Linked DNA regions of Homo sapiens: region 1 is linked to region 2. The links come from fine-mapping of genetic effects on gene expression. A gene starts in region 2. The other region holds a variant in brackets. All regions are shown on one strand. Distances are from middle to middle.

Region 1 (5,374 bases), 65 kb before region 2:
GAGTTTCCCAATAACAAGCGGAAGAGGCAAGATTCCAACCCAGGGAGTTCCGATCCAGAGCCTGTGCTTAACAGCCCCATCTGACAGGCTCAGAGGTGTGTGTCCGGATGTGCATCTGCTCCGAGTGGACTAGCAGGCCTGGCCCTTGAAGCTGGAGAGGTTTTATGATGAGAAAGTGAGGCCATGATGAGTCTCCTGCAAGCAAAAGCCTGGGGTCTCCTAAGATGATGACCTGCCATTCGAGAGAGCCCCTGTGAGCAGAGAGAAATGCCGCTGGTTATCAGCTGGTCCCAGCAGACCCCTGCTGCCCCCAGGCCAGCTTCAAGGGGGCAGACACCAAGGCTTGGTTCAGTTGGCAGAGTTGAGAACCAGACTGTGAGATGATACAGAGGTCGACCTTGAGATAAAAAGCCAAAACAAAGGTGCCACAGGGGCTTCCTAGGGAGAGGGGTGGCTGGGTTCAACCCAAACACTGACCCCTTCCTACAGACAGGGTGCTGTGCTAGGGGGCTGTGGAAGCCCTAGGAGGGGCTGCAGGATGTCTGCCAGAGATCAGCGAGGGCTCGGTAAGAGTTGGAGGAGAAAGAAAATCATGGAGGGAAGTCCTCAGTTTGCATCAGAAGAGAAAGGTTTTTCCCTGGGAAGGAGCCTGGTGGTGAATGTGCGTGTAAGTGGCTATAGCCCCAGTCATCAGAATGGGAGTCTCTCTAGAGCCCTGTCTCTGCAGGGTTATCTGCTTTTCCAGCAACTAAACTTGCAGGGAACCCTGTGTGTGGCCAGGCCTGAGTAGACAGGAGTGCCTGGTGGCTGACCACTGGCATCACTGGCCTGGTACTCAGAAGGGCAGTGGTTCTCAGATAAAACTGCGAGTGAAAATACAGCAGTTTGACTATATCTGCCTGAAGTCTCACTCCCAGTTCTGGGCCTTCCTAGGGACACTCTTATGATACAGACATTTCTAGAGAGTATCTTACTTAGTCCAAAGGAGTGGCTCAAATGACAGTATCTTAAGTATCACTCTTTCATTCAATTAGTCAGTCAATCAATCCATACTCAGGAGGGTCTTGCTACAGATCAGGTATTATGGGGATGTGATGATGAATGAGACAAACACATAGTCTTTACCTTCTTGGAGCTCATATTGCAATGGCAGGCTACTGGTGGAAAGATTGGAGGCCCTACACGTTTAATAGGTTTTTGACTTCAACAGCTTAGATACCACCCCATCCTCATAGTTTCTGATAACCTGGAGAGTAAAGGATTAGATCTAACATGAAGAGGAGGTTCAACTTCATTTCTTTTAAAAATTGGGGATCAGGAAGTTTTAGGGATTATGAAGTACCTGTCCCTTATCCATACCAGCAAGGGGTTCATCCTATGACCCCTCTTGAAGGGGAAACTCACCTGAAATTCTGCCTCATTTAGCATGCACAAGAAATCCAGAAAATCAAGACAGGTGACCCTGTGTAGTCAAAGCAAGTGGGTCTCCAGATGGCAGATGGGAAGCCCCCTGGGGTAATGCATGCTCACCTGGTTAATTGTTGAACAGCCCATACTTGTGCCGTTTCACCATGATTCTTCCAACTTCCAGAAACAGCCCCTTGGCTCAGCTTTCAGAGCTGGACTGGCCTATCCCAGAGAGGCGGCCCCAACTTTGTAGAAACTGGGACAGGCAGTGCTTCTTAGAGACCCTCCGGTACCCCAAAGAGCGGGGCTTGTTCTCCAAAAAGGAAATCTTTTCAGACGACTTGACGTCCTAAATCTTTCTGGAGAAAGCAGAGACATTAACACCCCCAGGGCCTTTCAACTTCAGGCCGTTCTTCTGTTGGGAACGCCATCTCTTGGCCTCTTCAAAGACCTGGCCTCACCAGGCAACTGCACTTCCTCTCTCACCCTCCAGGAGCCTTCTGCATGGCCCCCAAGAAGCCTGCCTGGCCCCTGAGCTGGGAAAGCTGAATTCCCTCCCTGCCTCCTAATTTGGCAGGAGGAATGGAAACTTTCGTGGAAAGCACTTGAGCTGACGAATGCTCCCAAGTCAGGACTTTGACTCGGGCCCTGACAGGGCCACGGGCTCAGGATCCGGAGGGGGGCGGCTCTCCTTCTCCAGGTCAGGACCTCCTGCCCTGGCTCCTCCCCTTGCTTTCTGCCGACCATCAGTCACCAGCTCCCCTGTGACCCCAAGTGACGGCCGCACACCACTAGAGAAGTCATTGTCTTACACATCCCCCCTTTTCACTTGCCCTCCCCCAGTTCCTCCTCCCCTTCATGGTGTATTTTTCTTCCACACTTTCCTGCGTCCATCAGTGGCTGTGGAGTCTGCATGGGGCTGGGTGGAGTTGGAAGTCTAGAGCTTTTTGCTGTTTTGTTTAAGACCTGGTTATGGTTGTGAGACTTTTTTTTTTTTTTTTTTTTTTTTGTCAGCTGCCTGTTATATCAATCACGGAGTCGGGATCTATTTATAGGTTGGGAGTACTGTGTCCTTAGTCACAAAGAGACACAGACAGGGGACTGTCAGCTGGTACCGGAGGAGCGGAGCAACGAGTTATCAGCAACTGAAAGCACCTGAGGGGCCGCACATTCCACCCCAGCCCAGTCCTCGTCCTCCACGCCAGCCCCAAG[C/T]ATGTGAGTAACCCAACTTCTCCCTTTCTCCTCCCCAGACTCTGCGGGTCCTTTTCTGTCCCCTTTCTCTCTCTCTCTCTCTCTCTCTCTCTCTCTCTCTCTCTCTCAATGGATAAAAATATCTCCCCATGCCTGTTCTTTCATCCTGGTTTTCCGCACTCTAAAGCATCCCTGTGTGGCCGAGAGGAAAACGTTGCCTTTCTTAGACTGTCACAGGAAGGTCAGAGGGTCTCTGGATGGCTAGGTGGGACGGTGACACAAACTCATTTGGAAGCAGTGAGTTCCCTTTGATTTTTGTTTGTTTTCACTGAGAAAAAAGTAAGTACATCAGAAGGGCAAGGGAAAGTTTACATGCAGCTCAGCAGGGTAGCGATGTCGCCCAGCGTGAAAACTTTTATTTGCTGGCAGCTCCGGTGTAGGGCAAGCTGGGGAAGGTTACCCAAGAAGACCCAGTGCCCACAGGACAGGTAATGATGGGAGCTCCTGGAAGTTTTGGTTTCAACCTGGGAGCTTCCAGGTTCAGGGAGACTCCCCACAGTCCCGATGACCAGTTTTCTATAGCACCTTAAAGTAAATGATTTTCCCTCTCCCCTCCGCGGAGCAAGTTTGCTTTGAGAAGTCACGATGAGAGCTGAGGATTTGTCCTGCCTTACAGGCTGTCATTGGCTCCCTCATTTGGTGTATTTTCTTAATCCTGAAAGGGAACTTGGCTGGGGACTGGGAGGAAGAGTCCCAGGCCAAAGCCAGGTGTGGAGGGAGGGCTGTTGACTGCTTTGCTCTGCATCCTTCGCAAAGGAAGAAACTTAATATCGTGAGGCTTGTCAAAGCTGTGCTTGTTTCAGACAATTCGAATAGTGTGCCGGCTCTGAGTGCACCTCGGGCGGCTCTAGATGGGGCCTTCCCGGCCACAGTCCTGTGTCCACGGGGCTTACCTGCCACGAGCTTCCCGTGCAACGTTTGGGACTTTAGTTTCTGGATATTGAATAGTATTCACCCGAAATCCTGTACTTGGGAAGATTTGCTTTATAGAATTTACAAAGGAAAAGTAGCCCTACATTTTGAAAAAAAAAAAAAAAAAAGTAATGATGCCTAATTTATACTTAAGTACAACTTTTTAAATGTACCTTTTTTTTTTTTTAACCATGAGTTTCTATTTATCCAATGGATACCATATGCTATATGACTGAGGACTCCTTGATTTGTTTGGGAGAACAATATCCTACAAAGAAACAATCTTTCCAACAATTTAAAAGCATTAAACAAAGCAGATATGCCTGTATTATTTTTGATTGATTACAAACAAAAATAGTTTTACCAGCATGAAACCAGTTAGTTTCATCTAACTCGATGAAAGTTAAATAAATATGGATATACACACGTATGTTTAGAGAAGCAATTTGATATCATTTTTATTTTGACTGTTCTGAAACTTTAACTTTCCTTTTTCTGGTTCCATGTTTTCAGCTGTATTTTGTTTAGGGTTATTAATATCTTTAATCCATTCATTCATTATTTTGGACGGGAGAGTGGGGATCAGGAAGCAATGAGAAATTAGAAGGCAAACGTCCCATGTTCAGCCAGTAAGACCGCATTCAGTAGTGGAGAAATTCAGAACAAGGAGTATGGCGTACAAGGGGGTAAATGTCACTATTTAAGATCTAGTATAGACGGTGAAGTCTAAGAACTCCAGAGGGGGACAAACGCCAACTAGGAGTTAAAGTGTCTTATACATATAGCATTATTATTCTTCCTATTATGAGGGCCTCTATTTTGGTAAATATGTCCTGCTAAGGTTTTTTCACCATAATGCTGAAGTGGGATTTGGTGGATTATTGTTAATTAAAGCTCAAGTGAATGAAGTGATTGAGACATTGCATTCAGAAATCAGAGAAGATTGCTATTGGCAAAGCTGAACTTCTAGGACTTTCAGATCTCAATGGCTTTTGAGAAAAAATGTGGCTTTTAAAAATGCCTTTTAGTACAAGAACAAATTCTACCTCCCCTCCCCAACCTGCACACTGGAGCCTGCCTGGCCCACTGTGCAGGCCCAGTGTGTCAGGATTAAATGCAGTGGGAGAGAGTCCCGCATTCCTGAGCAAGTCCTGTGTTCTCAGAGCCTTAATGGTCAGACAGAAGAATATTTTGTTGGGACATTTAGCTAAAAACTGCCTCTTCCCTGGGCTACGTGTAGATCCTTTCAGGTGAGATAGGGGCTTGTCTGACCGTGTGATAGAGGGCCTGGCTTTCATCCTCAAGTTCAGGGTGTGGTTTGGCCCATCGGGCTTAGTTATAGAGATGCAGTTCAGGGAAACTTCAGTGTATTTGCATGAGACAGCCTCTGATTACTTAGTTTCTGCTTCAATAACTATTAATTTTATGTGGTTTGAGCTCCCATCAAATTCATTTTTTTTTTCAAACTGATTTCTTAAATGCAATTGGTCACGGGGCTGTCTGTGACTTCATGTCTGCAAAATCTAACCATTCCATCCTTGTCATTGTTTATTTCTCTGAATGTAAATGAGCAGTTTCCTGTGTGCATGCACTGTTGTTTTATGGGTTCCCCCCACCGCCCTCGAACACATAGGAATCCAGTCCTGACCTCCTCCCAAATTGGGGACAGTGGGGGCAATGAGCAGGTGCTTTGGAATGCAGCAGGCTCAGGTGCAGGAAGAGGGAATCACAAATACCTGGAAAGTGCTCCCCTAATTCAAACGATTTTACATAGTTGAGGCCTCTCCAAATACCCCATCAATTA
Region 2 (5,374 bases):
TTACTGTCCCATACTGCTGCCTCTCCAGCCAGAGGCATGGAGCCTAACCCTGGCTTTGGGAAGGAATCCATCCTCCGTGAGTTGGCTGAGGGCAGAATGGGAAAAATGTGGGCCCCATGCACAGTGTGGGACCTAGGCAAGTTTGTCTGGAGAATCACAGGAGGAGCCTGGGCCTGCCAAGTTGGATCATGCCACTAGGGTGTCCCGGCGGCTGGCCCTCATCTCTCCTCTTGCAGAGTCAGAAAGGAAATGAGAAAGAACTTGGCCCCAGGGCTGTGTGAGAGGAGGCTCAGGCAGAGGAAGGCTGAGAAGGCCTAGGTCTCTAGGAGTTCATTCCTGCCTGGAGGACAATCAGCTAGTGCCCAGAGATAAGGCTCTGGTTCACCTTCATGCCTGAACCTTAGAGGCAGAGAATAATAGTAGGCAAGCATTAGCCTAGTGTTCTAACCAATGCAGACCCCACTTTCTCCTCATTTGCTCCCAGTGGCTTTGAATCCATTGCTCTGGGCTGTGATGTGGTCTTTCTTTTCAGACCATGAAGAGGACCTTATTTCTACCAAGTGTGTCTTGTTTCCAGTTAAAAACGGTGCACCCACACAGAGTAAGGAGTCAAGGGGCCCCAGACAACCCATCACTGCCTCACCTTCTTCCTGGGCAGCGGCCTGTCACTCAGCAGGCTGTGGCACCCCACTCCAAACTCCTACAGGTTAACCATTCATTCAGCAAAATCTTCATCAAGCAACTGTTATGTATCAGGCAACTTTAGATGCTAGAGATTCTCTGGTGAACAAAAAGAGACATGGTCCCTACTCCCATGGAGCTTACAGTCTAGTGAGGGAAGGGTGGAGGAGGGAATTATCACTCATGCCAGTACACAGACAATTGCAAACTGTGATAAACTACCCAAAGCAAAGGAACCACAGAAGATTCTGGCACTATATGGAAGGTGGGGCCTTCTAGGTGGCAGATGTAAAGACTGGGGCCCAGAGGGAAAGCAGCAGGGGCTGTGGAGAGGAACAGAGGGACCTGCAGGAAGCTGTCATAGGATGCCTTCCTTGGAGGCCAAGGACTGGGGCCTTTTTCCTAATTGCAACAACGGGACATTGGATGTGCATTTTACAAATCGCTCCCTGGCTGCTGTGTGCCTGGAGAATGGATTTCAGCAGGGCAGAAAGGATGCCGAAAAACCAGTCACTGAGGTCCTGGTGAGAGATGATGGTCATATAGAAGCCAGGCTCAAGGGAAGCATCCCTGCACCCCTCTTTCTGTCTCTGATGAAGTACCTATGTGATTTTTAAAAATCGGGGGCTGCTGGGGGGCTACTGACAGAGGAGACATCTTCATCCATCTCTCTGTGAGATGCCTTCCTGAGCCTTGCGCCCAGAGAATCCCACTTGTTCCTCCACTTCAGCACATATGAAAAATCTCAGCTCTGTTTCCCAACCTGCACGAGCACATTTATCCAAGTCAAAAATCATCTGCGATCCTTCTGCCCACTCTCCCAGCCCCTGCCCAGGCGGCTGGCCCCTCCTGGGGTTTCTCACAACCCTCCCTGCCTTTATTCCTGAAGTGCTTGAACATTGCCTGCAGTTACACTCCATTTAGACATTATTTTGATGATAAAATTATGTCTTCCCCCCTACTGCTCATTGTCTTCTGCAGAATATAGGAGAATAAGGTGGTGGTGTCTCCTGAGGGCTTTTCCCCCCTTTTAAATAATTCTATACCTACCCCCCTCCCCACACTCATTTGAATCATCAAATTGATTATTATCCCTGTGGCTGGTGCATCTCAAAAGATGAAAAACCCAGAAGCAGGGCTGGGGCATGACTTACAGCTCATTTTGGTACAGTGGCATCCCATAATATTCGGGTTCACTGAGGGAGCAGCGGACGGGGATGCAGGTGCGTTTGTAGCTGGGGATTCAGGTGTGTATTTCAAAGTGTGTACTTGTGCCTTGGAGTGGATGTGGCGGGTAAGTTGATCATTTTCACCACGATTGTATTTTCCTAAGCAGACAGGAATTTATTTGCTCATGTCTGTGTCCTGGGTACATTTCAGAGAGCTGCCAATGACTAGAGCATCACTTCATACATTGAGAGAACGTTTTATAGATGCGCACCCTGCATCTAGCCATATGAGAGTGGTGCAGAACTGACTGGCCCAGGTGATGAGAACTGGGAAGGGAATCTGTTTCTCTCCTGCCTTCTTGCTGTGCCTCACCTGCTGGCCTGACCCTTTGCACTTTTGCGCACACAGCGCAGGGTTTGAGGCTGCCTCTTCTCTTTGGTGCGTGGGTGGAGAAATGTGACTCATTTTTAATTTGGAAAACAGATCCATTCCAGAAAGGCTGAGAGGTGAGTTTGCTAGACCTGCCAGTTAAAAGATGGGATAGGGGTGGCCCGGGGGGTATGTAAGCAATAAATCTCCCCCCACCCCAGACCCACCTGGCGGTTGGACATTCCCCCCCACCCCCCTTTAACTGCGAGAAGGCAGGCCTTAGGGCTCTAACACCCAGTACTCCTACTGCTCAGGAGGTGGGGACCTCGCGCGCTGAGCGTCTCATTCCATGAAGTCTCTCTGTCTCACCCCCTCCCCCCACCCCAGCTTGATTCTGTCACTTTAAGTCCAGCCCCTGAGAGATAGCCAATAGGAGCCAAACTATACATCAGTCTCCCAGCCTTAAAGCTACAGTAGGGTTAGTGGGCTCCAAGTCTCTTGTGCCCCAGCCTCCTCCACGGCTTCGCATCCCCTCTGCCCGCTCTCTCCGGAGCGTGCGGATGAGTGGAGAGCTGGGCTGTGCGCGCACGGCTCTCTGCCTCCCTCTCCCCCGCCGCGGCCGCCTCCTCCCACTCTGCGTTCTCGCGCTCACTGTGCCCTGCCCGGGCTCGCACCTTGCCCGTGCCCTTCACTCGCTCTTCCGCGTGATTTCCCCGCCGTCTTTCTCTACCAACTGGGAATGCTAAAACGGGACTGATGGACGTGTCCGAACTCTGCATCCCGGACCCCCTCGGCTACCACAACCAGTAGGTGCCCTGCTTCTCGGTCTGTCTGTCCTTCTGCCCGTCTGGCAGTCTCTGTCCTGGGGATCGCAGTTCCTTTTCTGCACATTCTTGTGTAAAAGTGGAAGGGACTTCGGGGGGGCACTTGGGGGACGAAGGAGGGGAAAAGCCGCACACTTCTGGGTTTCTTTCTAGGGCATAAACCCTCCTCTAACTTTTTCCCGCACCCCCTTTTACAAATCCACACTTTCAGGCAAGAGTGGCGCTTTCTCATGCACTTTCTCCCTTTCTCTCTCCTCTCTGATCTTGCTCCGGGGTGAGAAAATATTTGAGTTTTTGTGGAATGGAGCAAGAAGGGAGGCAGAAGCCCAGAACAGGTGCAGGGATGTGGTTGCAAGGATGTCCTGTCCCGTCAGAGAAAGCCTTTCCCGCGGGCGCTTTGTTTTATTATTTCCATCCTGGGGACCAAAAATGATCCCGGCAAGAGAGAGAAAATCGAACGTGCCGCGGCGGTTTGGAAACTGCAGGCGGCCAGTGCCGCTCTCGCCTCGCGGTCTCCGTGGGGCGCCCCGAGGGTGCGCACGTGGCGCGGCGGATCCAGGGCGCCCGGGGGATGCGGGCCCAGCGCTGCGTCGTAGGCAAAGTTCGTTCTCGGCTTTGGGGGAGGCTGTGACCAGCGGAACAGAAGGGCACCATTTCCCTGCTCCGAGGCGGCTTTGCGCTCGCGGTGCCAGAACCTGGGGTTATCCGAGCGGCGTGGGCGCGGGCGGCAGCCGGCGCCGCGAGAAGCGACTCTCAGAAACCGCGGGTCTCCAGCCCCGGGGCAGCGCGCCAAGAGCGCAGAGTGGGAAAGTGAACTGATCGCCTAAGCAGCGGGTGGTCAACCCGCGTGTCATGTCCGGGCTCTCGGGGATCCCACTCTATCCACCTACGGTTTCCCTCCCGACACCCTCCACGGTCGCCGCTCCACCTGCTCGGGTACCTGCCCGGGTCTCCCCTTGGGCGCTGCGCACCCCACGGCGCCCCCGGCGGGTGTCCCGGAGGCAGGTTGTGTGCGCGTGCAAAGTGGTCCCTCGGAAGGCTTAATAATAATAATACATAAAACTCTAGGTTCTTACGGACAGCTTTCCTGCTTAACTTTGTGCTCGTCTTCCTCTTTTTTTTCTGACGCAAACTAAATTCTCCAAGTCAGCGTTTCTCCAGTTCCACCGTGCTTTCATTTGTGTACCACTCGCTCTCCCCCTCCCCCCAAGAACCACGACTACATCTCTAAAATAAATACTCTGGATCATGTGGGGTCCCAGGAAGTACCTAACCCCTCTCCTGGCTGCATGGAGCACCTCCACCACGGTGCACCCCGCTTGAGAGAGAGGGCAGCTGTCCACAGCATGGCTTGTGTTGTTGACCAGACTGTTCCTGCTTCTAGTTTGGGGATTTTCCCCACTCCACCCTGGGGCAGAGGGCCTTTTAGATGCCACCAGAATGTCGGCAGAAGGCGCTGGTCTGGGAGAGGAATCCTTAATAATAATGGATTCCGATTTCCATCAGCTTGAAAAGTGGCTTTCATTCCTTTTAAAGGTTAGATTCTAGCTGGGGTGGGGATGGGGTGGGAGCACCTGAGGTTAGTGAGGCTGTGGACAGTATTTGGTGCTTGTGGAGCATTTCCTTACATAAAATGATCAAGTATGACAAATATTGGATATTTAAATTATTAAGGCTCCCTCTCTCCAGAGGTGACTTCTTTAGTTGAGCACGAAATACTTATGTATTTGTCCCTGGCTCAAGTCATAGTCAATAAATATGAAAATTCGTATGAAGGAAGTACATTCTTTGATTATGCTTACCAGGAAAGCAAGGAGTGAGATGGAGGCTTTAACAGCTGGGTAATTCATCGAGTTGACGGCAGCCCTGACTGGAGTTTGAGGAGAAATATGGGCAAAAAGGCAATGTCAGGGAAGCAGCAGAAGGAAGTCAGGGAGCTGAGGTCCTGGGGGTCTGGGAAAGGTTTGAGATAGAAATCATTTATAAACTAAGCCTGACAGAGGTTTAGATCCCCAACCCTTTCCGGTTTTTTTTTGCAAAGAATTAGCTTGTCCCTCCATGGGGCACAGGAAAAGCCAAAAATATACCTGCTGTCTCCACCGAGGAATTGAGCACCCCTGTCAGATGTCATTTCTCAAAGCCCAGGACCCACTGGGCAGCAGCCCAGGCATTGATGAGCTGGCCTCTTATACATATATGTGCCGCCTAGGGAGGGTCTGCATGTGCTGTGGCGCAGAGGGGCATCATTTCAAGGACGAGCTTGTGGAGGTCTGGGGCTGGTGTCTGGGGAGACATCTTTCTGACCTCTACCCCATGGCTTTGTGACACAG

What was found.
Region 1: its variant is fine-mapped to the expression of ESRRB in skeletal muscle (GTEx, PIP 0.95).

What each region holds. Positions count from the first base shown.
Region 1 is chr14:76,308,295-76,313,668 of GRCh38, forward strand. LOC105370575 (a long non-coding RNA gene) reads right to left here and starts at 2,125. Exons shown (of 4, transcript XR_001750833.3): 1 at 1,531-2,125. It also overlaps a transcript of ESRRB not described here. RefSeq lists an enhancer at 1,528-2,141. The variant C/T (reference allele first, on the strand shown) is at 2,620.
Region 2 is chr14:76,373,426-76,378,799 of GRCh38, forward strand. ESRRB (estrogen related receptor beta) reads left to right here and starts at 2,712. Exons shown (of 7, transcript NM_001379180.1): 1 at 2,712-3,026. The coding sequence starts at 2,977.